4 linked regions of the Homo sapiens genome follow. The protein of the gene in region 1 purifies or fractionates together with the protein of each later gene. This does not show direct contact. Each region holds a gene or a part of one and is shown on either strand. Other genes may lie near its edges. The genes, in order: NEUROG3, ZNF496, ADCY6 and GXYLT2.

The links.
Region 2: the proteins of NEUROG3 (region 1) and ZNF496 purify together in Homo sapiens (co-immunoprecipitation; 3 studies listed by BioGRID and IntAct, with this or other methods). This does not show direct contact.
Region 3: the proteins of NEUROG3 (region 1) and ADCY6 purify together in Homo sapiens (co-immunoprecipitation; 3 studies listed by BioGRID and IntAct, with this or other methods). This does not show direct contact.
Region 4: the proteins of NEUROG3 (region 1) and GXYLT2 purify together in Homo sapiens (co-immunoprecipitation; 3 studies listed by BioGRID and IntAct, with this or other methods). This does not show direct contact.

What each region holds. Positions count from the first base shown.
Region 1 is NC_000010.11:69,571,176-69,577,977, reverse strand, and holds NEUROG3 (neurogenin-3), read left to right. Parts: upstream 1-4,555; 5' UTR 4,556-4,768; intron 4,769-4,867; exon of another isoform or gene 4,868-4,933; 5' UTR 4,934-4,934; coding exon 4,935-5,579; 3' UTR 5,580-6,280; downstream 6,281-6,802. UniProt on the Homo sapiens protein: Acts as a transcriptional regulator. Together with NKX2-2, initiates transcriptional activation of NEUROD1. Involved in neurogenesis. Also required for the specification of a common precursor of the 4 pancreatic endocrine cell types.
Region 2 is NC_000001.11:247,328,846-247,335,969, reverse strand, and holds the start of ZNF496 (zinc finger protein 496), read left to right. Parts: upstream 1-4,102; 5' UTR 4,103-4,180; intron 4,181-4,322; 5' UTR 4,323-4,538; intron 4,539-5,888; 5' UTR 5,889-6,004; intron 6,005-6,354; 5' UTR 6,355-6,391; coding exon 6,392-6,781; intron 6,782-7,103; coding exon 7,104-7,124. UniProt on the Homo sapiens protein: DNA-binding transcription factor that can both act as an activator and a repressor.
Region 3 is NC_000012.12:48,779,087-48,786,108, forward strand, and holds part of ADCY6 (adenylate cyclase type 6), read right to left. Parts: exon of another isoform or gene 5,473-7,022; intron 5,153-5,472; exon of another isoform or gene 4,353-5,152; 5' UTR 4,349-4,352; coding exon 3,485-4,348; intron 1-3,484. UniProt on the Homo sapiens protein: Catalyzes the formation of the signaling molecule cAMP downstream of G protein-coupled receptors. Functions in signaling cascades downstream of beta-adrenergic receptors in the heart and in vascular smooth muscle cells.
Region 4 is NC_000003.12:72,883,419-72,891,054, reverse strand, and holds the start of GXYLT2 (glucoside xylosyltransferase 2 precursor), read right to left. Parts: upstream 3,010-7,636; 5' UTR 2,822-3,009; coding exon 2,547-2,821; intron 1-2,546.

The sequences.
Region 1 (6,802 bases):
GGCGCCGCGCGCGAGCTGCGGACGCCTAGGGGAGGCGGCCCTGAGCAGGGAGGGGGGATCTGGAAATAAAGACCTCCGGCTCTCCTGAGCGCCCGGGCCCTCTCTTCCCTTTGTTCGAAGACTCCCTGGGCCGGAGCTCCCGTGTGCGCCCTGGGGGGTGGCATATGGCGCCCTGTCACCTACCCAAGAAAAAGAACCGGCCACCCTTTCAAGAGCGCACGAGGTCCCTGAGCCTGGGGAGGGGGAGTCTCTGAGGGAACGGCTTCTCTCCGAAAGTGGGTGAGGAGCCCGTCTTATCTCTCCCTACCCTGCCTCCACCATCCCCTCAGCTGGCGCAGCAGCCGTTGGGTGGGGAGCTGCGCGCTGGGCAGCACCAGCCTGCGGAAGCGCTCCAGCTCCTGGCAGATGAAATATGGGTCTGGTGAGCCCCTGGAGACCATATGCTTTCAATAAAAGAAGACAAATAGGACCGAGATAGGCCTTGCAGCCAACCTGTTATAAATGAGTGGCAATTGGGCCAATGTACACGGGGGCAGGGCCCCCGCGGGGAGGCCTGCTTGGTGCCAAATCCATGTGTCAGCTTCTGGGACAGGTGTGTCCAGGGGCCAGGGGCCAGGTCTCCCCCCTCCGGGTTTATCACGGCAAAGGTAATATTGTGCTAACTATGAGTAAACAGTCATTGTGAAAATGAGGGAGAGTTTATCAGGGCGAACTAGTTGGGGGGTGGCTTAACAATAAAGTTGTTCGCCTTAGGAGCAGGTGACGGCTGGCTGCACGGACTCCCGCGGTAGATGTTTTCCAAAGCACTCCACTTTACAATCTCTTGTAATTATTTATTAAACGAAATCTATTTATTATTATTTTAGCAAACACTGGAGACAGGTGGGGCTTTCTTTTCGTCGTCTCCTTTTGTTTGAAGGGCTGTTTGAAGTGGCCAGTCTCGGCCCGGGCAGCTCGCTCGCCAGATTTTTGTCTTCCCCTCTTTCACTGCTGAGCTGAAGGCGAGAGAAAGAATCCCCCTCCTCTGGCAAGCCATTAGCTATTCAGCTTCCCATGGCCCCCCTCCCTCCCTGCACAATTCTCAAAGAGCCCCCAGGCAATGCTAAAACTACCCCCGCCGACAAGAAGGCAGGAAGGCGGGCCGCTGCCTTCCTTCTTTTCCAATGTGCCCGCGGTCTCCAGGCGTCTGGCTACCGCCTCTCTCCGGGACCCCTCAGCCTCCAGGCAAACTTAGGTCTCAGGAGGTGTAGGGGTGCGGGAGTCCTGGAGGTCTTAGGGGCGGTGGATGACCAGGAGCTGCAGGAACAGACTCTGCTGTCTGCGGGAAGAGCCATTTCACAAACACTGCCGGTGCGCACGGAGTCATTACCGCCTGCGCCTCCGCAGCCAAAGGCACAGGAATTAACTTTGGAGAGGGGTCTATGTGTCCCCTGCAGCTGAGACAGAGGGCATGGATCCTCAATCTCTAATCGCCTAAGACTCCTTGACCTCCGGCCCTGGCCTCCTGGCTGGAAGAGGACTGCGGGAAATCCTTGCATCCCTCAAGAAGGCGGCTGCCCCCAGCCACCGCGCGCTCCTCGCCCTGGCTGCTTTTTGCGCAAAGCAGGAGTGATGGAGAACTGCAAGCCCTGGAGGGCCCTGAGCCGGAGGGGTTTGGGGGAGGCTGGATAAGAATTCCAAGCAGGTCCCAGAATTCTCTACCTATCAAGAAAGCTTGAAAGAATCCCCAGAGTCTTTCCTGGCATGGGAAGCTCACCCTGCGAACCTTGTCAGTATCCATTAGCCGCTCCAGGCAGGCCCCAGCCAGAGTGAGACCTACCCCTATCTGAGGTCCACTCACCCCCATCTGAGGTCCACCGCCAGATGAGAGTCATCCACAGGCTTCTGGGAAACCAGAGCGGTGCTTGGATCCCTCGTGGCCAGGGTTCCCTCCAAGGTGCTTAGCCAGGTCAGGAGGCCCTAGAGAAGCATGGTTTGGATTTTCTTTCCCAGACCAAAAAAGCTCCAAGTTGGTTCTCTCCCAGTTTCTAACTTGCAGTTAAATAAATCAGGCAAGGCTGGCCTATGAGGCAGACAAGTGTGAAGAAGGAGAAGGAGGAGGAGAAGGAGAAGGAGAAAGAAGAAGAAGGAGGAGAAGAAGAAGAAGAAGAAGAAGAGGAGGAGGAGGAGGAGGAGGAGGAGGAGGAGGAAGCAGCAGCAGCAGCAGCAGCTTGAATGGACAGTGGTTCCCCTTGCCTAGAAAATGGGACCATTATTTCTTTTCTAATCTGACCCCCAGACTCAGGACTTCCTCTATTTTCTGCATTTTGGGGTCTCTTGTTTTGCCTTGAAAAAAAATGTTTTCTCCCAAATCAAGGAGCAGTAGCTGGTGCAAGGGAAAATCTAGGGCTAGGAGTCTTAAGATATGACTTCTATGTGGTTCTGATAGAACTTGCTGTGTGACCTTGAGAGAGTCACTCCCCCTCTCTGGGCCTTGATTTTTTCATCTTTAAAGAAGGCCTCAAATTCCCATTCTTATGAGAAGAAGACAAGCTCCTAGTGAGTGGTGACCTAAGGGAGCAGCTGCAGCAAAATGCTAACCTGACAGTCCCAGATGGTCCCTTTATTGGTTCTGACCCTGGTCTCAGGCTTCATTTCCCCACAGCAAGGGAAGGAGCCTGCTCACAGAGCACCAGCTAAGATCAGCAGGACCGCGCCACACCCCCGCCCAGTCCTAGAGCCCCCCTCTCGCTGGTTCCTGAGCATACCACCCTCTTCCTTGGAGGAAAATTTGCCCCCAAGCAGCCTAGGCGGTAAGAGGCTATCACTAGGGCAGACTCACAGACCTACCTCATCCCCTCACCCCACCCTACAGTCTCGAAGTCGGGTCCTGTCCCCTCCTGCAGTTTCCGGGAGACTCAGGATATCTGGACCTGCTAGAAAGAGAAGCCTTCCTCGCCTAAGGAGACTTAAACCGGGATACTTAAACCTCCCGCCTCGGCGTCTTCCTCCAGGCACGACCGGGTCAAGAGAGAGAAGCGGAAGCTGCAACCCCTCACTCTGAGTGACCGGAAGCAGAAGACCACGGGATGTCCCAGGCGGGGACAAGAGGAGGGGCTGGGGAAGAAAGGAGGGATGATGAGTTCAGAGTCCCTTTGGAAAGGTTTCCAGAGAGCGCTACCAGGGACAACCCAAGGGGCTGGGGAAGTCCCTGCCTTGTGCTCTCTGTGCGATGCCCGAGTGATGCAGAGGCAGGGGGCTGGAGCAGGTGACTGCTGGCAGCTGCTGTCTGTCTGTGATTGGACCGGAGGACTAAGGGGAGAAAAAGTTTATCAGCTTCTCCCAGTGCCTGCACGCTGTGGTAGTTCAAAAGACACGAGGGGGAGGGGCACAGCAGCTCTGCTTCCCAGCGCCTTGGGAGACTGAAGTGAAAGGAACGCTTGAGCCCAGGAGTTCGAGACCATCCTGGGCAACAAAGCAAGACCGCCCCTCACCCCATACAAAATAAAAATACAAATAAATTAGCCGGGCACAGTGGCGCATGCCTGTAGTCTCAGCTACTGGGAAGGCTGAAGTGGGAGGATAGCTTGAGCCCAGGAGATCAAGGCTGCAGTGAGCTGTGATTGCACCACTGCAGTCCAGCCTGGGCGACAGAAGGAGACCGTTTTTTGGTTTTGTTTGTTCGTTTAAAAAAAAAAAGAAGCAAGAGCTCACTGTGAACTCCTGGTTCCTTCCTCCCCTCCTCACACTTCCCAGAACTCTTCCTGTCACGGTTCCTGGCCAGAACGCTGGGATACTATCTACAAGCTGTAGTAGGCTTGTAGTAATGGAATGTCCGCTTGAGGGGTCCCCGCACAGCCAACCCCTGCCTCTGGAGTGGGATCTATGGGGGTGGGGTTCTAAGCGCCTCTGGGGAGTGTGAGGTAGCATCTCAGGGTGTGGCAGAGGCTCGGACACCCCCAAAAGGTCTGCGAATGGAAGGGACATAGGCAGGATCTCTCTCAGTGATGTCCCCTGTCTTCCAGGATGAAGAGAGGCAGTGAAACACCAGGAGAGCAGGGCGTCCTTTAGAATTCCTGGACCCTTCTCCAGGCTGCTAGTCAGGACAATGAGCTCGTGGTTGTCTTTGCCACTATCTTCCTGTGCGATTTCAGACAAGCCACCTCCCTCACTAAGCCTAAATTTCCCCATGTGTAACGTGCAGGCATTGTACCCTAGAGGCATCAAAGTCCCCTCCAGGACAGATGCTAAGGAAAGATAGGCTAGGAGCAAAGCCGTCTGAGGTGGCCTGACCAGAGCCACACGAGGCTCTTCTCACTGGGCGAGGCTCTTTGAGGAACCGAGAGTTGCTGGGACCCAGCCCGCCCTCGAGAGAGCAAACAGAGCGGCGCTCCCCTCCCCCGACCCCGGCCCTTTGTCCGGAATCCAGCTGTGCCCTGCGGGGGAGGAGCGGGCTCGCGTGGCGCGGCCCCAGGGCCCCGGCGCTGATTGGCCGGTGGCGCGGGCAGCAGCCGGGCAGGCACGCTCCTGGCCCGGGCGAAGCAGATAAAGCGTGCCAAGGGGCACACGACTTGCTGCTCAGGAAATCCCTGCGGTCTCACCGCCGCGCCTCGAGAGAGAGCGTGACAGAGGCCTCGGACCCCATTCTCTCTTCTTTTCTCCTTTGGGGCTGGGGCAACTCCCAGGCGGGGGCGCCTGCAGCTCAGCTGAACTTGGCGACCAGAAGCCCGCTGAGCTCCCCACGGCCCTCGCTGCTCATCGCTCTCTATTCTTTTGCGCCGGTAGAAAGGTAATATTTGGAGGCCTCCGAGGGACGGGCAGGGGAAAGAGGGATCCTCTGACCCAGCGGGGGCTGGGAGGATGGCTGTTTTTGTTTTTTCCCACCTAGCCTCGGAATCGCGGACTGCGCCCAGTGACGGACTCAAACTTACCCTTCCCTCTGACCCCGCCGTAGGATGACGCCTCAACCCTCGGGTGCGCCCACTGTCCAAGTGACCCGTGAGACGGAGCGGTCCTTCCCCAGAGCCTCGGAAGACGAAGTGACCTGCCCCACGTCCGCCCCGCCCAGCCCCACTCGCACACGGGGGAACTGCGCAGAGGCGGAAGAGGGAGGCTGCCGAGGGGCCCCGAGGAAGCTCCGGGCACGGCGCGGGGGACGCAGCCGGCCTAAGAGCGAGTTGGCACTGAGCAAGCAGCGACGGAGTCGGCGAAAGAAGGCCAACGACCGCGAGCGCAATCGAATGCACAACCTCAACTCGGCACTGGACGCCCTGCGCGGTGTCCTGCCCACCTTCCCAGACGACGCGAAGCTCACCAAGATCGAGACGCTGCGCTTCGCCCACAACTACATCTGGGCGCTGACTCAAACGCTGCGCATAGCGGACCACAGCTTGTACGCGCTGGAGCCGCCGGCGCCGCACTGCGGGGAGCTGGGCAGCCCAGGCGGTTCCCCCGGGGACTGGGGGTCCCTCTACTCCCCAGTCTCCCAGGCTGGCAGCCTGAGTCCCGCCGCGTCGCTGGAGGAGCGACCCGGGCTGCTGGGGGCCACCTTTTCCGCCTGCTTGAGCCCAGGCAGTCTGGCTTTCTCAGATTTTCTGTGAAAGGACCTGTCTGTCGCTGGGCTGTGGGTGCTAAGGGTAAGGGAGAGGGAGGGAGCCGGGAGCCGTAGAGGGTGGCCGACGGCGGCGGCCCTCAAAAGCACTTGTTCCTTCTGCTTCTCCCTGGCTGACCCCTGGCCGGCCCAGGCCTCCACGGGGGCGGCAGGCTGGGTTCATTCCCCGGCCCTCCGAGCCGCGCCAACGCACGCAACCCTTGCTGCTGCCCGCGCGAAGTGGGCATTGCAAAGTGCGCTCATTTTAGGCCTCCTCTCTGCCACCACCCCATAATCTCATTCAAAGAATACTAGAATGGTAGCACTACCCGGCCGGAGCCGCCCACCGTCTTGGGTCGCCCTACCCTCACTCAAGTCTGTCTGCCTCTCAGTCTCTTACCACCCCTCCTCCAATGTGATTCAATCCAATGTTTGGTCTCTCAGCGCTTACTCCCCTTGCCTTGCTCCAAAGACGCTGCCGATCTGCTCTACTCCCAATCAGGTCCGGGATTTCAGGGCGCCTCACTCTGCCTTAAAGCCACGAAGGCGACCCTCTGCCTTCTCCTCGTGCACTTTTCGGAGCCATTGCCCTCCCGGGGCGGAAGACCAGGCTGTGAACTGGGAAAGCGCTAGCCCGGCCAGGGAGCATCTCCCCAGCCTCCCTGCGAACTGCGCCTGAAACGTGAGCTGCGCTGCAGGTGCCTGGAGCACCGCGCATCTTTTTTTTTTAAATCTGTTTGTAAATTATATGATGCCTTTTGAAATCAATTTTGGTACAGTAAATTATATGGCCCCTCCCCTGTTTTACACATTTGTATTTATTAATGAGATTTCACAGCAGGGAAAAGCCTATATTTTGTATATTAGATTATTTAGGGATTGCTGGATGAGATTTTAAGCCAATAAAAAAAAATGGACCTTCAAGAAGCCTTGGCAAGATGACTCCATTGTGTGTTGGGGAGAGGAGGGCCACAGTCACTACAGCTGAGGAAGAGCACTTCTGTCCAAAGAGAGGGATGACACTCTTTCTGGAGGTCTGGGCTAGAGCCAGGGCAGATTGGGTTTGGAGAGCTGGAAGTCTTCTAAGTAATTATTGGTCCAGCTCCCTTTTTTCTATATAGGGCAATGACTCCTCTTATTTCAAAGAGTGGTTTAGAAGAAAGACAAGCCTCCAACTAGGACAACTGACTCTCACTTGCTGGCCCTTTCCCCAACTCCACCAGCCTAGCTTTA
Region 2 (7,124 bases), on another chromosome or scaffold:
GCCTCACAGAAACACCAGACTGGTGTTTGAACAAAAACTGAGTACCACAGCTAGCCAAGTTGCCTCATAAAATAAAACGTCACACTTGCTCCTTATTTTACTGGAGTGTTGGCAAAGTTGGAAGAAGCCTGCCCCAGGCTCTCCCTGCCCAGATGCTGTGGACATGCCTCAGGTCCAGAGGCAGCCTTCCCTGCCCTCCGGCTCCCCGTGGGCCCTGGGTGCCAGCCCTCCCTCCTCCAGGCGATGCACTGCAATTTCTCCCATCTTTAAGATGAGACCGTTTTTCTCCACAGGGCTGTGTCCACTCTCATCTCCCTTCTCTTCCAGAAAGTGCCCTAGCCCAGGAGCTCCACTGTCTGCTTTGCTCAGGGGCCTCTCTACCAGATTCAATGGGCAGTGTTCTTTCCTCATCGGATTTGATCTTGGCGCAGGATTTATCCCCCTGACCTCTTTCTCTCCTTGAAACACAGGTGCTCACTTGGATTCCAGGGCTCCACACCTGCAATTTTCCTTTTATCTCAAGGCGGCAGCAGCTCTCCCTACCCCCTTCTCTTGCCCTCGTCCTCCCTCACTTTCCTCCTCCTACTTCCCCTTCTCTCCCTTCTCCTCCACTAACCCCTTGGGCTCCCACGGTCCAGGGCTGGCATTTCGCAGGGTCTGCCCTCCCTGGGGCTGCTTCTCAAAACACACTCAACCCTCTCAAGCCCCAGCTCCTGCTACATACGGTGACTCCAGATTTCCACCTCCAGCCACAGCTTTCTATCCCAGAGGGTCATCCCCACTTGTCTCCTGGGCATCTGAAAACCAGCAAGTCCCAAATCCACCAATTCAACCCCAAACCCAACCCCTTCCTGGAAACCTGCTTCCTTGCATCTGCCATCTCTAGAAGGCCTGTTCAGTCACCCAGTTTCAGCCCCAGTCACAGCCGTTCCTCACTCCTCTAACACAGGCAGCATGCCTTCAACACAGAGCCTGGATTGGGCCTACTGTTCACCAGCTGTGCCTCCACCAGTCAACTCCAGGAACCGAGCATCTCCTGCCGGGATCTCTACAACGATTCCTAACAGAGACTCTGCTTCATCTGTTCTGCACAGTGATCTTGATAAAATCAAGATTCCGTTAGGCCACACTCCTACTTGAAACCCTCTAATGACTATAACATCTGGTGACCTGGTTCCAGCCTCACCATTCTCTCACTATTCCTCTGCCCAGCTGAGCAAGCACACGCTGTTTCCTCTGCTGGAATACTCTTCCCACACACCTCTGCTCAGGAGCCCCCCACCTGCTCTCCACTCAAATGTCACCTCCTGACAGAGGCCCTACCTGAACATCCCCAGCACACTCTTCCCCACCATGTTGTATTTCTTTCATGACACCGATCACCAATGGCGTTATATTGCAGAATCGCTGATTTATTATTTGATTCCCCTCCCAACTCCTTGGATCATTCTTCTATGGTCTCCCCATGGATCGAATAATCATTGGCACATAGCAAACATTTCATAAAAACAGATACAATTGGCAACATTATATTCATACAAACCTAATACACGCACACACTGGGCATGATGATGGTGCAGTCCTTGAGCAGGGTTTACAGGCAGGATCCTCTTCCCGATGCTTCACCCGTGGTATCTGATACAACCCCACTTCATTCAGAGGCGAACACCTTCCCCACGGGCTCCTGTGCCCCCACCCAGCTCTATGCCATCCCTCTCCTCTCACTCACCAGCCCACCTTGCTTCGCACCGCTCCCCCTTAGGGCCTTTGCTGTCAAGGTGGTCTCCATGTGTCAAACAGGGACTCTGACCAACTACTTCATCTCAAATACCACCTTCACAGTAAGGCCTGCCTGCCCTCCTCTTTAATACCATGACTGTTACCAGCCCCTCCCCAGCACTCCTGACTTCCTGATGCCTCTCCACTTTCCTTTTTTTCTGTAGCACAGATCAAAGAGAGCAGGTCATGTTACTGATTTTGCTTCCTCCAATAGCCAGTTGTGTTCACAGATGTACCTGAGCACCTGGAAGGCTGGCTGCCTAGCACTCATGAGTGTACAGTAGGTACTCGGTATAGGTTTGCTGAATGACTGAATCTTTGATCCTGCACAACCATCCAATGAGGTAGACAGCATCATCCCTGTTTTCTGGATGAGGAAGTTGAGGTACAGAAAGGTTATGTAGGCCTGAGGTCACCTGGCTAGGAATTCATAGGGCAGGATTTAATCCGGGTGCCTGAGTCCAGAACCTTGACTCTGAAGCCCTGTTTTGAGCTAAATGCAGCAGCAGCATAAACAGCCCGTTTTGTGCCTCAAAAGGTGAACAGTGGGAGGCACAGCTGGGCAGGGACGTGTCAGGTCAGGGGAAGAAACTGAATTGGGTAGTGGGGATTAATTGGATGCTGTCTGCCAGCAATTTCTGCCTCCTGCATTTTATCTGCTTTAGGGTTGCAAGGGGCAGAGCTATGAACACGGATGCCCACTCAACAGCCAGTTCCTGGGCCAATCAAAGGGTTGGGAGCTGTAGCACCAGAGCTCTGGAACCCCACAGACTAGGATGTTTGCTAGAGCACCTAAGCCCTACCAGCCTTTGATGACCCCTCGGTTCCTCCCAATTCCTCTCCTCCATGTCACGGTTCCTGGCTGGTGTTCCTGAGAGTGGGCTGTACATGAGTTCTGTAAATGCCAGTCCAGTTACGTCAAAGGGGGTGGCTCTCACTTGTACCTGTAGGCTCCAGCTAAGATCTGCGTGGCCCTGCCCGGCATCTGGCTGTCATCCGGGAAACAATCACTGTTCACAAACAAGGGCTTCACTCCTTCGCTCGCTCCATCTCCTGCTAAAGTCAGAATGTGAACACTGACAAACAGCGGCTCCCAGTAACTCTGCTAGTCAGAAGTGATTATTCCAGCAGTTCAGAGGAGGAAGTGGCGGTGCCCAGGGCCACGGGATTAGAAGAGCAACGGAGCTAAAGGATCCCGTGCCTCAGTCCAACCACCTTGTTCCCACTTACTCAGCCGGGCCACTTTCTTTGGAGAAACTGATTTCCTTCTGCTTGCCCTTGAAAGGGGATCCGAAGGAAATCGGAGCTACCGGCAGTAGCTACCCTCCGGAAGACGGAGAATCTTCTCCACCTTCTCCTCTGCGTAGGAGAATCCAATTTCGGTGCAGAGCAGATGGCGAAGGGGCCATGGGAATCAGACCTGCTCAGGGACCGGGTTCGCACTTTCTCTCAAGCTCTGGAGCCTGAAAAATGAGCATTCCCCGGGGACGACCCATGTAAGAATTTGGGCTATATTCAGCATAGTGCAGCGGCCAGCAGCCCTGTCTCGGGGTGGGGTCCGGAGGCCCCCATTTCTGCTTGCCCCTCACTGCCACATAACCTTGGGTCAGAGTCCCTCATCCTCTCCCTCCGCCACTGTGCACAGCTGCAACCGTGTTCACTTCAGCGAGCAACGAGCCCCGTGACCCCCACTCAGGGTCAGGACTCACCGCAGCCCCTCTGCGCAAGCCCCGAGGCTCTGCGTGGCCTCCGGATGCGCGGCCTTTCCTAACCCGGGGACTCCGCACGTGGGCGCCAGGCCCGGAAGGCGCGGATGTGAGCGCTACCTTCGGCGTCCCGCAGCGGCAGGAGGGGCTGGGCGGCCCGGGCTTCGGCTGGCGGCGGGGGGGGGGTCGCAGGGGAGTCTGAAATGAGGCGGCCGACGGCGCGCGGGGCCTCCTCTCTCCGCTCCATCCCGCACCCCCAATTCCAGCTTCCATCCCCAGCCGCGACTCCCGGTCGGCCGTTCCGGGCGTCCACTGGCCGCGTGTCCTGGGGGCGCCAGAGAAGGAGAACAGCGGAGAAAAGAGCCCCGGGCCGACCTTCCGGACCGGCGGGCCCGCGGGGAAGCCCGGGCGCGGCGACGTGGCTGACCCACAAAGCCCCCGGCCCGGCGGCCAGGCCCAGGCGCGCGCGGAGCGGGGCGGGCCGGGGGTGTCGGATGTCACCCCCAGCGCACACCTCGGCCGGGGGGCGGGGGAGCGAACCACTGAGATGCGGAGACCTCCCCAGTCCTAGAGCGGAGCAGGAAGTGTCCCAGGGGAGGGAGCCGGAGGGCTCCGGCCTTTCCTTTCCTCGGCGTCCGGCGGGCTCCCGCGGCGGCCAGGCCTGCGCCGCCCGCCAACAGGGACGCGCCGCGGCGGTGAGTGCACCCCGGCTCCCGCGGCCGGCCCCGCCCCGCCCTCCTCGGCCCGCGCCCGGCCTCCGCGGCGCCGCCTCCCAGCCCAGAGCCCAGCGCTCAGGAAGGTGCGGGCGGGGGAGAAAGCAACACCATTGTTTTTCAGGCGCCTCCATTTGCCCCCGAGCCGAGCCGTGGCTTTCCGGATGATCGGGAGACGCGGTCTGGACGGGCCGGGAAAGGAGCCGGGCGCCTGCGGAGACCCCGCCTCAGCGAGTACGCCCGGCCGGGCGGGCTGGGAGGATGAGGACGGCTGCCCTGGACTTCCGCCGCCACAGGAGGGTTTTCGGCCGGACGCCGGGAGGGAGCTCCAGGCTGTGAGGTGAGGAGCCCGGAGCCGGCGAGACGGGAGACGCGCGTGTGAGGGAGACCGAGGGCGCGGAGGGCGGGCTCCCCCTTCCCTGGCCCACAGCGACCTTCTCCTTCCCTTTCTGCCGATCCAGCTCGGTCCCTCCTCCGCGAAAGGCTGGGAGCTCGCTCCGCCCCTGCGGGGCCCTCCTCCGCCTCACTCACGTTAGTTCATTCATCAGGCATCTCCTCCGAGCCTCCGACGCGCCAGGTGCCGCCGTGACAAAGACGGACGCGGCCGTCTGGTTGGAGACGATCCGAGTGGCAGCCCGGGTGGGCGCCGGTGCTCGGGGGGGCGGGCCTGAGTAGTCCTGGGCGCTGCAGGTGTGTGATGGGCGCCGCAGGGGGCCGCCGAGCAGGGCGGGCGGGGCCCACCCCGGGCTCCAGATGCCGGAGCCGCCCTGGAAGCGATCCGGTGGTGGGGAGCGCTGTAATGCGTCCAGCCCGACGCCGCCACGGCCCCCATATGGGTTTCTGTGTATGTTGTTACTTTGGAAAGCAAAGAGATTCAGAGCAGTGGGTGTTTCTGGAACCACTCAGTTGTTCCGTAGCTTTTCTGGCATCACTTGTCTTTCTGTGAAATGGGAGTGAGGCCCGAGTCCCCCTTCCCACCTTGTGAGCTGTTGGAGGTTAAGACGCGGCCACGCTGGACAACCTCGTGCAGATGGGGGAGTGGCAGGCACTGCCGGTCCTAAGGATCACAGAGGCCTGATGGCAGAGAAGGGGACTGTGAGTGTCCCCATGTGCCCTTTCACGGGCCCAGCGTTCTAAAGTGGGAATCATAAACACCAGGTATACTGGTTGCTGGTCTCTTGCCACCCTAGTTGTGGCAAAAGTGTCGGCTAGTTGTCTGCACACCAGCGGGGAGGTGTAGGGACCCCTGAGTCCCACCTTGGGGGTGTGGCAGCTGCAGTGTCCAGGGGTTCTTTGAGGGCTGAGCTGTGCAGTGACGGACCCACTTTTCTGTCCTGGCCGAGGAAGGGCTTTGGCGAGTGTGCAGTTGCCTTCAATGTGGTTTGAAGAGGGCAAGGATAGAGAATAGGGTGGAGGCGAGGTTGAAGGTCAGGGCAGAATTGGCAGAAGGCTCATAGGAAACCACTGATACTTCTAGATGCAGTGTTATTTGTCCCTGGTAGACTGCATGTAGCTGTCTCATGTGATGTTTTCCCTTGCCTCCCATTGCAGACTCTGCTGGGCAAAGCTGATTCTGGCTGGGTTGTCCATCCAGCACGCAGCACCATCAGCCCTCTGCCACCAGAAGGGTGGATTTTCCATTCCTGGATGTGCTTGAAGGCTCATCCGATGCATGTCTTTGTCATTCCAGCTCCATTTGTAAAGGTCTTAATAACAAGAACAGTGACTTCGGCTCCGGAGCTTCAAGATAGTGGCCTGCTTGGCCTGCCCATCTCGGATCTCTCCAGGAGGACCCAGCCACCCAAGGTACCAGAGCGTCTTGATTACATCTGCATGTGGCGCTGTTGGTTTCCTGGGATGCTCAAAACAGCAGTGTCACGTTGAAATGCCACCACTTTCTCCCAGATTTCCTGTCTTGTTCATCCAGTCACCCACTTAACGGGAATCCACACGTAATGGTACTGATGGGGGGAGGGCATCTTTCTGTCTGTTTCATCCTGTGTGTAAAGACCAGCCACACCAACACTCCCTACCTTTCCCAGGGCTTCTCCAAAGGGCTGGTCTCTGAGGGCATTGACAGTTTCCTTGTCACTGTCCCCCAGAAATGACCACAGGAGACCAGAACACTGAAGCCAGTGATTTCTGTTTGGAAATAGGGTCGTCTTCTGCTGCTGACCCCCATCAAATCCCATCATGCCCACAGCCCTGTGCCCCCGAGTCTTGGCTCCGAAGGAAAGTGAGGAGCCCAGGAAAATGAGGAGCCCACCTGGAGAGAACCCTAGCCCCCAGGGGGAGCTTCCCAGCCCCGAGTCCTCTCGGCGTCTCTTCCGCCGTTTCCGCTACCAGGAGGCGGCGGGCCCCCGGGAGGCCCTGCAGCGCCTCTGGGACCTGTGCGGGGGCTGGCTGCGGCCTGAGAGGCACACCAAGGAGCAGATTCTGGAGCTGCTGGTGCTGGAGCAGTTCCTGGCCATCCTGCCCCGGGAGATCCAGAGCTGGGTGCGGGCGCAGGAGCCTGAGAGCGGAGAGCAGGCTGTGGCCGCGGTGGAGGCACTGGAACGGGAGCCCGGGAGACCCTGGCAGTGGGTGAGTAGAAGAGGTGGGGCTGGGACGGGTAGAGATCTGGTACTTAGACACTTTGGCTGGGCCATGCATGTGCTGGCTGGGGAATGAGGAGTTCCATCGAGAGCCATTTACTTTGGTTAGGTCCAGACTAGAGTTTCCTAAGAAAGCCAGTTTTACTCCCTGAAGGCTCTAATTTGGGCATGATAGTGTCGTGCCCCTTTACAGCCCAGTCCAAGGCCTAAGTTGAGCCTTTGATGGTCAGCTGTGGAGTGGATGGTCACCAGGCCCAGGGAGAGATGGGACCTCTTCCCCTAGCCCTGAAAAGCTGTCTCTGGGATTGCAGCTCAAGCACTGTGAAGACCCT
Region 3 (7,022 bases), on another chromosome or scaffold:
GGTCAGGCTGGTCTTGAACTCCTGACCTCAAGTGATCCGCCCACCTCGGCTTCCCAAAGTGCTTACGGGCATGGATTACAGGCATGATCCACCGCACCTGGCCCCTAACACATTTCTTAAAACTCTGTGAAATAGGTAACAATATCCCATTTTAAAGGTAAGGGAATGAGGCACAGAGAGGCCAAGTAACTTCCCCAAGATCACACAGCTGTTAGTGGCTAGTGTGAGACTTGAACCCAGGACAATCAGATTCCAAATCCTGTGTCCTAATCCTACTATCTATCTACTGCATTCCATACTTTGTAGTGCATTCCAGGTTTCCAAGATTCCTACTCACTCTACTGAGTCAAGCTCTCAAGCCCAACCTCAGAGCCCTGGCTTGAGAGTCATCAGTTCTACTGATACAAAGGATGTCCCCTAATTGGAGATGGGGTCCACCATGCCTGGCCACCCCTCAAGGTGTAACTCCCTCTGACACTCAGCCCTGCCAGGCCCTAGGCCTAGGGCCCCACCCTAGGAATGTTCAGCCCCCAATCATCATCAGCGGCACTGGCTAGAGAGCAAGTCTAAGGGAAGCTGGCCTCAGTGTTTCTGGAAACTCAGGAATTAACCTGGAGCTTGCGGCTCCACCCCAGAGTTGGATGGGGCAGGGCTCTGGTTTAAGGAGAAGGGAGAGAAACAGCAGAAGCACTTCCTGGAAGCCAGAGGTTCTGGGCTCTAACTTGAACTAGAACTAGTCCTGCAAAATTGGGCAGGTCACTTAAACTTTGGGACCTCAGTTTCCTCTTGGGTAAAACTGAGGGGGAGGCCTGGCTCACCCCTAGCCATTTCCAGCTCCAGCCTCTGGGATGGGCCTCCTAGCTTCCCTTCCCAGTCCAGCTCACAGGCCCAGGATCAACTAGGCTGAGCTCCCCCTCCCAGCAGCAGGGGTGAAGAGAGGGGCACACTATCTCCCTTGGGGGTTTCTAAGAATAGCCCCCAGTGGGGGAGAAGGGAAGGGGGGCAAACCAGGCAACTTCCCTTCCTGGCCCCAGGAGCCCAAGAGGAAAATGTGAGTCACGGTGGAGGGAAGGGGAAGGGGGACGAGACTGAAATAACTCTGTACACACACATCCCTATCTGACTATGAGAAAAAATGGATGCCAGGGGACCGGAGGAGACTCCAAGCTGGGCCTGGGTCACTGGGTGACACTGTTCAGTATGTCTAAATGAGTGGGTCGGTAGGGGACAAAGTCTCCTTCCTGTGATTGTGAGTAGGGGTGGATCTGGGAAGGGGCTGCCCAAGTAGACGAGGAAGGAGGCCACAAACCCCACCTGTCTAGAAACCCACATACCCAAATGGGCACAGGGAATGTTTCTCAGCCCAGAGGAAGTTGTATGGGCAGCTCTGGCCCCAAGGACTGGCACAGGGGCAGCAGTGAATTTCGCCACTGCCCCAAGAATGTGCCTATCGAGATCCACTACATGAAGCTGTAGCCAGACACTCCTGGGGAGACGGGCACAGTCCTGGCCTCCCTGGGACTGCACCTCCCCAGTCAGGCACTGGGCCTGGCTCTGGGCACCATGCCAGTCGAGAGCAGGGAACAGATGCCCACCCAGCCCATGCCTGGCCAGAGAGGAAGGGGGAAAGGAGACACCACCTCTAAGCTCCTTCCCCAGGAGGGCAGTCCAGCCATAAAGCCCTGGTTGAGAGCCACCCTGGAAGAGAAGCTTTGGGGCAGAAGGACCTGGCCCTTTAAGATGTCTGACAGTGCCCTAAGGGCACGTGCTCCACAAACAAACGGGCTATAAAGTTACTTTTAAAAAGGTACGTTCTGGCATTCTGGCATTCTGGCCAGGTGCGGTGGCTCACGCTTGTAATCCCAGCACTTTGGGAGGCCAAGGCGGGTGGATCATGAGGTCAAGAGATCGAGACCATCCTGGCCAACATGGTGAAACTTGTCTCTACTAAAAATACAAAAATTAGCTGGGCATGGTGGCGCGCTCCTGTAGTCCCAGCTACTCAGGAGGCCGAGGCAGGAGAATCGCTTGAACCTGGGAGGCAGAGGTTGCAGTGAGCTGAGATCGCGCCACTGCACCACTCCAGCCTAACGACAGAGCAAGACTCCGTCTCAAAAAAAAAAAAAAACCACAAAAAAAACAGGTAAGTTCTGTTCTGCAGCACAGGCTGGGTGGAGAAGGGCATCATGCCAGAGAACCTAGCTTCTCACCCTGGGATCCCCAGGCAACTTCCTCTCTGTGCCTGAGGCAGGGTGGGCAACAGGCCACAAGCCTTCAAAACCTTGAGCAAGACAGCACTCTCTAGTTAGGGTCCAGTGGAGGACCCAGGCGCTGTGCTGATGGCGGGGCTGTGCCTACAGCAGCGCCTGAAGGACCCTGGCCTCTGCTCCCTGGGCAGGGGGGTAACAGGAGATGGCAGATCCACAAACTAACATCTCTCTGAAAGGGACTTCCCAGAAACCCCTTCACTGGGTACCATGCCTTCCAGCACTCCCCAAACCTCCCTGCCCCCAGGTGTGAACACTGCCCAGTCGGGTTCTACTCCACTCTAGGAAAGGGTGGGGCCCCAACAGCAACATGAGCTAGATGCTATTTTTATTCCAGCTTTGCAGACTGGGAAACTAAGGCTGGGAGAGGTGAGGCTAGTTGTCTAAGATCCCACAGAAAAGAATACAGCCCACTGGATAAGCAGGTCAGCCTACAGCCACTCCACACGGAGCCGTGGAGTCCCACCTCACACACACTTGGAGCCTGGAGGCAGCAACAGGCATGGACAGAGAACCTCAAGGAAAGGCGCCCAGGTCCCTGGTGCCCAGCATGGGGAAGGTGGGATACGATCAGACTTAACGCTCCTCTCTTCAACAGTCCAACCCCATTCAAACCACATCCAGCCCAGAGAGAACTGACCCCAGCTCTTCACCTTCCCTGTCCTCCCAGAAGTGGCCTTGGTCCAGGAAAGAGGGGACTCCTCTCTTGCTGACAACATCCAAAACCTGCTCTATACCTCCAGATCACCACCTAGAGCTGCTCTTCAGGGATAGCACCAGCGCCTCAGTCTCTGGTGTCAACTTGCCTGCTGAGATGCTAAGGCCTGGACACAGCCTGCACTGCCTTTTCAGCCCCACGGTGGCCCTGGGGCTATATACCACACCCCTGCCTCCAGCCCCACATTCTGTCTCTACAGACTGCACTATTTCAGCGGGCTAAAGAGCCGGAGACTGGGGCCCATGGTGACAGAGTTCAGGCTTGGGTCCTGGGGCCCTCCCTCCCCTCAGCAGTGTCCTCTACCCCAGATCCCACATGGAGGCAGACCCCTCAACCCTAGCCTCCCACCTCCTGCTCCTCCTCCCAGATACAGCCAGACATCCCTGCACCCAGCTTCCACCCATGACTCACCCGCCCTTCCTCACTAAGCCCCCACCTGCTTATGAGGTGAGAAATTCCCCACCTGCTGCCCTCCATCCCTACCTCCCTGGCCACCTACCTGCTTCCAGAGGAAGGCATCACCACGGTTAAGTTGCCAGGCCAAGATCAAATGCAAGGTGGAGAGGCCCAGGCCGCTGAGGACGGCAGCCCGCATGCGGATGGGGAGGAGCGTGTAGGCGATGTAGACAAAGAACACAGGGCACCAGAGGCCCGCAGAGGGGCTGCGCGGGTCTGCTGCGAGAGCGCCCCCGACCTGCACTGCCGCCAGGATGCCCAGCACCACGTAGCTCACCACCCACATGGAGTCCTGGCGGAAGCTATGCCGGTTACACACCACCATGAGCCCCACGAACAGGGCGGCGGCACAGGCCAACAGTGCCACATAGGCAGGCTGAGGGCGGGCGGGTGCGGCGTGGAAAGCCAGCAGCACCGCTGTGAGCAGCACCAGCACCGCCATCAGCAGCGTCAGGCTGCTCTGGTTCATCTGGAAGAAGTACCGCTGGTACAGGCGCTCCAGCTTGGCCGAACGGAACTGCTTCGACTGGAACACCTGCACCAGACGGCGCCAGCAGGATCGCCCACTCCTGGGCACCGCGTCGGGCGCCACCTCAGCCGTCCCGCCCGCTGTCGTTGTCACCTCGGTATCCTCGAAGCCCAGGGCCACTGCCCGCAGCCCCAGCTCCTTGCCCTTGCCTGGGCCGCCCCTCCGGATGAAGGCGTCATCCTGCCAGGGGCACCGAGGGGGGCCCGCAGGGGTGGGGCTGGGTGGCTCTGCATCCCGGAGGCAGCTCATATAGCGGGGCGTGCAGAAGCCACCTGCCCGAGTGCCACGGCGCCGCGAACGCTTCTGCCCATTGCGTTCACCCCAGGCTGTTTTCCGTTCATCCACTTTAGGGACCAGGAGGCCACTAAACCATGACATGTTGCTGGTAGGGAAGGAAGGAGATAGTATTAGAGACCATCCAGTAGGAGTGGTATTAATACCACCATCACAGCCACTGCCACCACTAGTAGCTCATTACCTAAGCACTTCCCACTGACAAGCTATGAGTTTCATCCTCATAAAATTACTTGGAGGTAGGCAACAAGGGTATCCCCAATCAACAGGTGAGAACCCAAGACACAGTCAGGACAAGAAACTTGCCCAAAACCAGGCACAGTGGCTTACACCTGTAATCCCAGCACTTTGTGAGGCCGAGATAGGAGGATGGCTTAAGGCTAGGAATGTGAGAGCAACCTGGGCAATACAGCAAGACCCTGCCTCTATTAAAATTTCAAAAAATTAGCCTGGGCCAGGCGTGGTGGCTCACGTCCGTAATCCCAGCACTTTGGAAGGCCCTGGCAGGTAGATCACAAGGTCAGGAGTTCAAGACCAGCCTGGCCAAGATGGTGAAACCTCGTCTCTACTAAAAATACAAAAATTAGCCGGGCGTGGTGGCGGGCGCCTGTAATCCCAGCTACTCAGGAGCTGAGGCAGGAGAATTGCTTGAACCCGGGTGGCAGAGGTTGCAGTGAGCAAAGATCGCGCCATTGCACTCCAGCCTGGGTGACAGAGTGAGACTCCGTCTCAAAAAAAAAAAAATTAGCCTGGTGTGGTGGTATGCACCTATAGACCGGGCCATTCAGGAGGCTAAGGCAGGAGGATTGCTTGGGCCCTGGTGGTGGAGGCTGCAGTGAGCCAGGATTGTGCACCACTGAACTCTAGCCTGGGCAATAGCCATAGCCTGAAAAAAAAAAAAAAAAGGAAGGAAGGAAAAAAGGAGGGAGGGAGGGAGAGAGGGAAGGAAGGGAGGGAAGGGAGGGAAATAAAATAAAATAAAATAAAATAAAATACAAAGAAAAGAAAAGAAGAAAGAGTTGCCCAAAGATCCAGCAGCCACATAAGTGAGAGAACCACGATTCTAAACCAGATTTGTCTGACCCCAAAGCCAGTATACTTGAAAATTTCCCTAAAAGGCACTGTTTGTTGGTGGTCACAAACTCAAGTGCCCAAGTCAATGAGTGAAGCAGCTTATGGTTCAGAACTGGGAGGAAAAGAGTTCATACCCTGTGCATGGGGCAGGCACCACCCAGCAGCTGTAGACTGTTGCCACTGGGTCCCAGTGGGTCCCGATCTGATTTTTCTCAACAGAAGCAGAAGAAAAAATCTGGAGTTTTTTTTTTTTTTTTTTTTTTTTTGAGACGGAGTCTCACTCTGTCACCCAGGCTGGAGTGCAGTGGCACGATCTTGGCTCACTGCAAGCTCCGCCTCCCGGGTTCACACCATTCAGCCTCCCAAATAGCTGGGACTACAGGCGCCTGCCACCATGCCCAGGGAAATTTTTTCTATTTTTTAGTAGAGACGGAGTTTCACTGTGTTAGCTAGGATGGTCTCGATCTCCTGACCTCATGATCTGCCACCAGCTAACAGTGATAATCCTAAGGCTCTTCAGCTTCCTCACTGCACCCCAGTCACAAGAACCTCTTTGCTGTTTCCCAACACACCCCGCACAGGCCAGCCTGGGACCTCAGTGCCTGCTGTTCCCTCTGTCTGGAACAAGAGCTCCTCCAGGTCACATCCCAAATGTCCCCTTATCAGTGAGGCTCCCTCTGACCACCCTATTAAAATAGCAACCCCCTTTCCTGGAGCTCTCTATCTTTTTCCCAGCTTTATGCTTTTTCTCCATAGCTCTAATCAGCAACTGCCATTCTATATATTTTTCTTATGTGTTCATTTTCTGTCTCTCCTGACTGGAATGTCAGCCTTATGAAGGCAAGGATTTTGACCTGCTGTGCTCACTGCTGTATCCACAACCCTTAGAAGGACCTAAACAAGTGTTCATTGAGGCCAGGTATGGTGGCCCACACTTGTAATCCCAGCACTTTGGGAAGCCGAGGTGAGTGGATCACCTGAGGTCAGGAGTTCGAGACCAGCCGGACCAACATGGTGAAACCCCATTTCTACTAAAAACACAAAATTAGCCAGGCATGGTGGCGCATGCCTGTAATCCCAGCTATTCGGGAGGCTGAGGTGAGAGAATCACTTAAATCCAGGAGGCAGAGGTTGCAGTGAGCTGAGATCACACCATTGCGCTCCAGCTTGGGCAATAAGAGCGAAACTCCATCTCAAAAAATAAAATAATAATAATAAATGTTCATTGAGTAGATGGATGACTGGATGGATGGACGAATGATACTCCATGCACTTTCTCTATGCTTTAAACTGTTCAAGATCTTTTCACATCCCTAATTCCATCTGATCTTCACCAAAACCCTGAGAAACTGGTCCTGTTGCCCCCTGGGGCACAAGACAAATTTGAAAGGAAAAATATATATAAACAAAAACTGAGGTCCATGGCAGTTTTATATGGCTGGCCCAAGTTATAGAGATCATGGTAACCAAATCAGTCCCAGATCCCACATTTCCTGGAGGAAATGTCATGAACTGAGGTGGGAGGACTCCATGATGATACCTTTAATGTGACTCCTGGCTGAGCCCAGGTCAGAATAAGATGAGGCTGACAGCACTGTCATCCATGCATGCCTGTGTCCCCACCAGGGCCACACTCCTCTATGCTCACAGAGTACCCTGAGGGGTCCCTTGTAATTAAACCTGC
Region 4 (7,636 bases), on another chromosome or scaffold:
GAGACCGAGCAGAGATCTTTCCTCCTGCTCCCTCACAACTTCAGAATCTTCTGTTGCCATTTCTGTGGAGGTAGCAAGAGAAACAATAAATAAGTCCCAGAAAATGTCAACTGTTTATGCATTTGAGCCTGAGACTTCCTGTGGCTTTTGTTTTTTACTCCTTCCCCAGTTTTAAAATTTTGTTCTGTATTCCTATGGTGTTGGCCATAATTTCCACGATAATCTAAGAGATATGTTCAAAAGAAAAATGGCTTCAAGGGTACTGTTACTCCTGGAAATAGAAACACTCCTTCCCTAAAACATCCATTTGGATTCTGTTCATGATCTCCTCCTAGTCAGAGACACTTTGTTCAGATAGACACAAAAAGATGCTGCGCCACTGTTCTCGACACCTTGAAGAATGAGACAGATCCAAAAATCTACAGTGTTTCTTTAAAAGACATCTCAGTAAAATTACGAATTGCAGGCAAGTCTATGGCCTGACATCAGCATAGCAGGTAAGTGCTCAACCTGAGCCCACACTGCCTGGATCTTTATCCTTCTCTACCAGGTTACCTGTGAACCTTGGACAAACTGCTAACCCTTGTGCAATACTTTCCTCATCTGAAAAGTGGGGATACCATTGGTGCTTACTTTGCAGAGCAGGTTCTCAAACTTTGTTGTGCATGAGAAACAATGGGAGGGACGTGTTAAAACACGGTTGCTGACCCCCCAAAGCTTCTGATTCTGTAGGGTTGGGGTGGGGCCCAGGAATCTGCATTTCTAACAAGTTCCCAGATGATGCCTGTGCCACTGGTCTGAAGTCCACACTTTGAGAACCACTGTCAAAGGGTTATGGTTGGGCCCGGCGCGGTGGCTCACGCCTGTAATCCTAGCACTTTGGGAAAGGCTGAGGCAGATGGATCACTGGGCTCAGGAGTTCCTGGCCAATATGGTGAAACCCCGTCTCTCTACTAAAAATACAAAAATCAGCTGGGCATGGTGGCACACGCCTGTTTGCCAGCTACCTGGCAGGCTGAGGCACAAGAATCACTTGAATCTGGGAGGCCTGAACCCGGGAGGCAGCGGTTGCAGTGAGCAGAGATCGCAGCACGGCACTCCAGCCTGGGCGACAGAGGAAGACTTTGTCACAAAAAAAAAAAAAAAACAAAAAAAAAACCAAAAGAAAAACAGCGGTGGGGGGGAAGGTTATGGTGTGGATTATGTAGTTGTATATGTTAAGTGTTAACTGTGACTATTTGTATGTACTGCGGTTAGCACTGTCCCTGGCAATAGGTTAGCGATGTTAAGGATGACAGTTATTATTATCTTACCAGTTGTCCCATCAAACTTAGCAATCATATTAAACTTGCAGTTAAACCCTAATTAATCTCTTACAAGAAACTCCAGTATAGAAGAGGGGAAATCCTATTAATTTCCTAACAAAGATATCCTTAAAGACTGTATACATCCAGAAAGGGCTGTAAAGTGTTATAAGTACTTTAAAGCGACAGATTGTTGGGGTTTTTTCCCCCTAAAACTTGTCAGTACCCATTTGTACTGAGACAGAAGGGAAACAAAGGCTGACACAGCTACTTCTTGAGGTTTCGTGTCTTTTAGTTACAGTAAAGGCACCAAAGAGATTTAGTCATTATGGTCAAAAATAATTTTTCAACTCCTTTCAGGTTGAAATTAAGGAGCCCAGCAAACAAGGACGTTGCAATGGCAGTTAGAAACAACAGTTTTGAAAGGGCAGATGAAACAGACTCGCTACAAGACAAGGGGATTGTTGAAAAGCCCTCCACAACAAAGGAAATGAACTCAAATCCCTAACCTGCGGGGCGTTCCAGCAACCCTGAGGCCAAAAATAAAGCTCTCTGATGAAAAGCCTCCGCGTGTTAGGCTTTGTGTAGGGAAAGAGAGTATCAAACAGAAGGTCGAAGGTTAAGTTGTTTTTCTTGTAGGAGGACCCTTTGACCACACTCGAGCCTGAAACAGAATGAGGATCTGGAAACCCCCACTCTGTCTTTTCTGTGCCACGCATCAGTCCTTTCAAGGAGAAAACTTCTTTTTAATAAACTTAGGTCAAGTGTCCCTTCTGTTCTAAGCATGGGGGTACTCGAGGTTAAATGAGAGGCTGCCAGTCCTTGGTAAACATCTAACTTTTCCAACTCAACCATATCTAAGGTTTCGGTAAAATTCTCCAGTGAAACATGAGAATTAGATAAAACATTCTTGCACCGTGATGGCTTTTGACAAATTAAACAAAGGGTGCATGTTTGCAAGAGTGCAAAAATACGCCTTGCCTTGACAGTTAAAAAATGTAATGTACGAAACCACTTTCCTTGACACTTCAAAAAATGTACGTGATTATCAACACCGAGCTGTTAGGGGGACTCCACCAAGGTGGGTCTTCTTTTCTATCGGGTTAAGAAACAGAAGTGGGCAGCCCGTGGGTGAAACTTGGAAATCTGTCTCTCCAGCGCAAAGCCTCCCTTGGACTTGGCACGGGTGTAGGGAGCGAGACACGGGTCCGCAGATGGGATTCTGGGGTTGCCACGACTCACCTCGCCAACTTCTCCAGTCTCGCAGCGCCCCGGCGGCCCGCTCGGGGGCGCGGACGCGGGGGCCGGCGCCTCCGAACTCCCGGGCTGGCCCCGGGGAGGGCGCCCGGCCCCGGCCAGCGCGCGGGGACAGGCGCGGGGTGGCGCTGCGGGGCGGACGCGGGGCGCGCGGGCAGCGCTGGGGGCTCAGCGCGGCCAGCGCGCAGGGACAGCAGCGCCAGCAGCAGCGCGGCCAGCGCGAGCAAGAGCAGCGCCGCCGCCTTGCTGCGGAGCTTCATGGTGCGGCGCGGCGGCGGCGGCGGCCCCCAGGCGGCTCGGCCCCTCTGCGCATCGCGGCGGCGGCAGGATGAGTGCAGCAGCGCGCGGCGGTCGCCTCCTCCGCCCGCCCGCCGGGGACTGGGGTCGTGGCGGCCGGCGGGCGGCCGGCGGCGGCGGCGACGGCGAAGGAGGAGGAGAGAGAGGAGAGGAGGGGGAGGCGGTGAGAGCTGGGTTACAGGAGGAGCAGCCTGCGCCTACCGTACTGTGTGGAGTAGCCGCCCCTCCGCCCGCCCGCAGCCAGGCTCTCGGGCTTCTGGTAGCTCAGACTCAAAACCACTTCATTCATTCATTCGTTCGTTCGTTCGTTTACTTCCCCATTCACTCACACACCCATGCCATCCACTGTTCCCGCTGATTCTCTCATACCATGATTCACTTATTTGTTGATGTATTCCATGTGCTTCCTCCTTATTTATTTTATCCATCTATCCACACATTTGTGCACTTATCCACACATCCTTTCAGGCAGGAACATCTCTGTCCTGTTTGCCCAGTGCAGGGATCTGCGGGTGGTGGTGCCCAATAAATATCTGTTGAATAAACCCCTATTGCCGCCTCTGTCTTGCCACCTCCCTTTTTCCTGGAGGAGGACATATTCAACAAGGACACATGCAAAATAAGGCAAAGCGAGTAAAAGTAACACGTGATTAGTAGTTGGGGTTTCAGACTCAAAACACCAAAGTAGAACTTGGGACAGCTAGACTGGACCGAACCGATCCATGTAGTCTGAAGAAATTAGAGAATGAATTTCAAAGTTTGGATTTGAAATCTGACACTGTGCTTAACTGGCTTGGTGATCCTGAGGAAGCTGCACAACTTTCTTAAGCCTTAACTTCCTTACGTGCAAAATGGGAATGACAATACTGCTCACTACAGAGGCGTTTTGTGAGCATTAAATTAAATAATGCCTTCAAAGAAACTAGCACAGTGCCTGGCTCACAGTCGGTGCCCAATAAAAGTTCTGTAATGATTAGTTCAATAAAACATAGCTTATAATATACACATAAACACACATTTTATTTTCTTTCTGGCACAGATTTGAGATAGAGTAATAATTTCACAACACAATGTAAGAATGGCTTCTTTGGAGACTTTAACAGCTGCAATCGCCAGATGAAGGTCGTAATTTCCAGACGATTCTTCCAGGGGATCCCCAGTTACAAATCTGAAACATTAGGACACATCCTCTTATGACTCACGGTGAACTGACAGCCAGGACTCCATTAACTCTCTTTTCAGCACACCACAGAACAAAGAACACTAGTTAAGTTATAACAACGTCCCTGAGTTTTTCAGTTTTTTTTTTTTTTTTTTTTTTGGATCACTCTGTAGCCCAGGCAGGAGTGCAATGGTGCAATCTTAACTCACCGCAGCCTCCGCCTCCCGGGTTCAAGCCATTCTCCTGCCTCAGCCTCCCAAGTAGCTGGGATTACAGGCTGCGCCACCACACCCGGCTGATTTTTGTATATTTAGTAGAGACGGGGTTTCACCACGTTGGCCAGGCTGGTCTTGAACACCTGACCTCAAGTGATCCGCCCGTCTCGTTCTTCCAAAGTGCTGGGATTACAGGCATGAGCCACCGCGCCCAGCCCGTCCCTGAGTTTCTACAAGATTCCATGTTGCTTTATAAATAATCTAAAATTTAGTTATATTCTGAATTATTCTCATATTAGCATTTTATTTTAATTCCTTGAGAACCCATTGTATTAAAAGTTCTAGAGATGAGAATATTTAGTAATTTGGAAGCTCTTGCCAAGCAGACATCTAGGAAATGGCAGGGTGCAAGTTCAGTGTGGGGGACATGTTGTAGGTGAGTAAGCGCAAAGAATCCATTAGTTCTCAAAGATGAGGGAGAAGGTTCCATCCTACCAGGAAGCATCTGGAATTGTGGGAAGGCTGACAGGTTCTACTAGCATATGCAAAACCTCCTGCAATGCTCAGGACATACCAACAACGAAAACTATCCTGGCCCAATGTGGGACCCTGTTGAGAAACACTAGGCCAGGCTAAGGCATGATGTTTAGATCTTTCAGGTTTAGAAATGGCCACCACTCTGTTGACATGTGGCCCAGAGAAGCAGGCATTCCCAACTCTGTCTTGCCCCCTCCCTTCTACCTCTAGGAGGACAGATGCAACAAGGATAAACAAAGGCAGAGTGAGTCAAAGTAACACTTGATTAGTAGCCAGGGTTTTAGCCTCAAACACCAAAGAATCATGGACCAAAGAGAGGACTCAGTTTTCTTGAACCTCACTGAAGCCAAAAAAAAAAGCCTAATCTGCCTCCTTCCACTGAGTCCAAACTCAACTTTTGGATTTGTTTGGATTGCTCTGATTGGTGGAAAACTACATCCTCTAATTTTTTTTTCTTTGGATGTGGTCAAATCTCATTTTAGTTGCAAAAGACTTCATTTACAGCACATTCAATAATGAACCAACAGGAGAGTTGCTGACTTTGGAACATATGAATATATAAAAATCCCTCGCAATTCAGGTAGTCAAGATAATAAGCACATACAAGGAAAGCAAACCTCATTTCTCTGAAAACGTTTACATTTTAAAAGATGACTAGGCATACTTGGACGTTCAAAGCAGTAGGATGTCCCTTGCAGGGAAAGAAGGAGGAAAACCCTTTTCCGTGTTGTTAGGCAAATGTATATCAAATATATCCCAATTCCACTTGATAAAGTCAGTTGGATGACCTCCTTGAACCAGGCTAGGGCAGAACACTTAAGAGGGCCTTGGGTGGGGATGTGAATCCAGGAGAAGAGGAACACCAGATCCCATGCAGTGCCAAACACATCTGTTCCACCCTCTAACACAGATGAGGCACGTCGCCCATGTCCCTGGACACCAGATGCACAAGAACAGTCATCAGATGGTTACTGCTCCCATGGCCTGGTGTTTTCTAATGGTCTTAATTCAGGCCATGGAGAAAATCCTTTACCACCAAGCGCAAACTGTCATCGAACTTAAATCATAAAGGATGTTATGGGGGAAATTCTTGTAACACATACATAAGGACTTCTATTTAACTAATTAGAATAATGATTACATAATTGACATTCCTGTTTTCATAAGGTTTTGTTTTCTACACTGGAATGGCTTAAGAAAAAGTTGTCTATTTTTGATTTTATTTTACACTTTCAAAAGAGAGGGAACAGAGAGAAAAAATGTGACTAACTGCTCAACTTTGGGTCCCAGCAGGTACAAAAGTGGACTTCTCTGACTCTAGGTCCATCAGATTTGGGGGAAGTTTCAGTGCCTAGGGAAGGTTAGTGAAGCCCGTTACACCCCCAATCCTACAGAAAGAATTCTATAGCTAATCTATCACAGTGTTCTAGCAAAGCATACGTTAAAAACTACAGGCTTCAACCTAACATCTAAACTTTTAAAAGTAGCATTTCAGCAACAAACAAGCTCAGAGAGCTCATTGCAGAAGTGAAATAACAGAACTATTTCGCAGATGTCCTAAAAGTCAAGCTGCTGCCCTCAGCTCTGCCCACTTGAAGGCTTAGGCAGACATGGAAGGTGGTGGTGGCTCCTTGGCAGCACCATTCACAGTGGTATCATCATACAGGGGCAGTGTCATTGCTGGTAATGTAAGTCAGGACATCAGAGGAGTTCCTGGCATTGATAGCAGTTCCAAAACAGCTAATCAAGTAACCCTTAAAAGTCAAGATAATGCTAATAAACAGAAGAATAATAAGGACCAAACAGGTAGGATTCACTGACATGACATCATCTCTGTAGGGAAAATTCGGAGGCAGTTGTCGTATGTATTCCTGAATGCCGTTTGGATAAACAAGCACAGTGATTGCAACCAAGGTATTCAGGGCAAAATTAAAGATCTGGTAACAGAAGAATGGGAGGATCTAGGCTATGTGTTGCTTGTATGCTCTGTAAGTAGCCAATAGCACATATCAGGATCATGAGAAGAGAAATCACAATGGCAATGCACATGTAGTTCCACATGGCTGGGGAGGCCTCAGAATCATGGCAGAGGGTGAAAGGCACTTCTTACCTGGTGGTGACAAGACAGAATGAGCTACATCCTCTAATGTTATAGAAAAGGCTTCTAGACTCCCTTACCCATGGCTTACCCAATGTCTCACTTAGATGTCTGATAGAAAAAAAATGCTTAATTTTAATGCTTTATAAATCATCTAAAATTCAATTATATTCTAAATCATTGTCATATTAGCATTTTATTTTAATTCGTTGAGAATCCACTGTATTAAAAGTTCTGGATGTGGGAATATTTAATAATTTGGAAGCTCTGAAATCTATTTTTTCTCCTAGAATCTTGACACCTCTAGTTACCTAGTTGCTCAAGCCAGAAATTAGGTGGAAACCATCCTCTTTCCCTCACCTCTTATATTACTGATCTATTGTTGCAAAAAAAATGACCCCAACATTTAGTGGCTTAAGATAATATGCATAATCTCATAGTTTCTGTCAGTCAGGAATCTAGGGATAGCTTAGTTGAGCCCTCTGCTTCACAGTCTCTCACAAGGCTATAATCAATTGTTGGCCCAGGTCTGTGGTCTCATCTGAAGGCTCAGCTGGGGAAAGATCTGCTCCTGGTTTCACTCACATGATTGTTGGAAGGATCCAGTTTCTTTTTTTTTTTTGAAATTCAGCTTATCAGTCTTTTCTCTCAGGGTTAGTAGGTTTGGTGTTTTGTCTAAGAAATCTTTGCCTACCTCTTGGTCTCAAGAAATTCTTTTATCTTCTTTTACAATAGAGCTGTCTGGGCTGGGCATGGTGGTTCACAC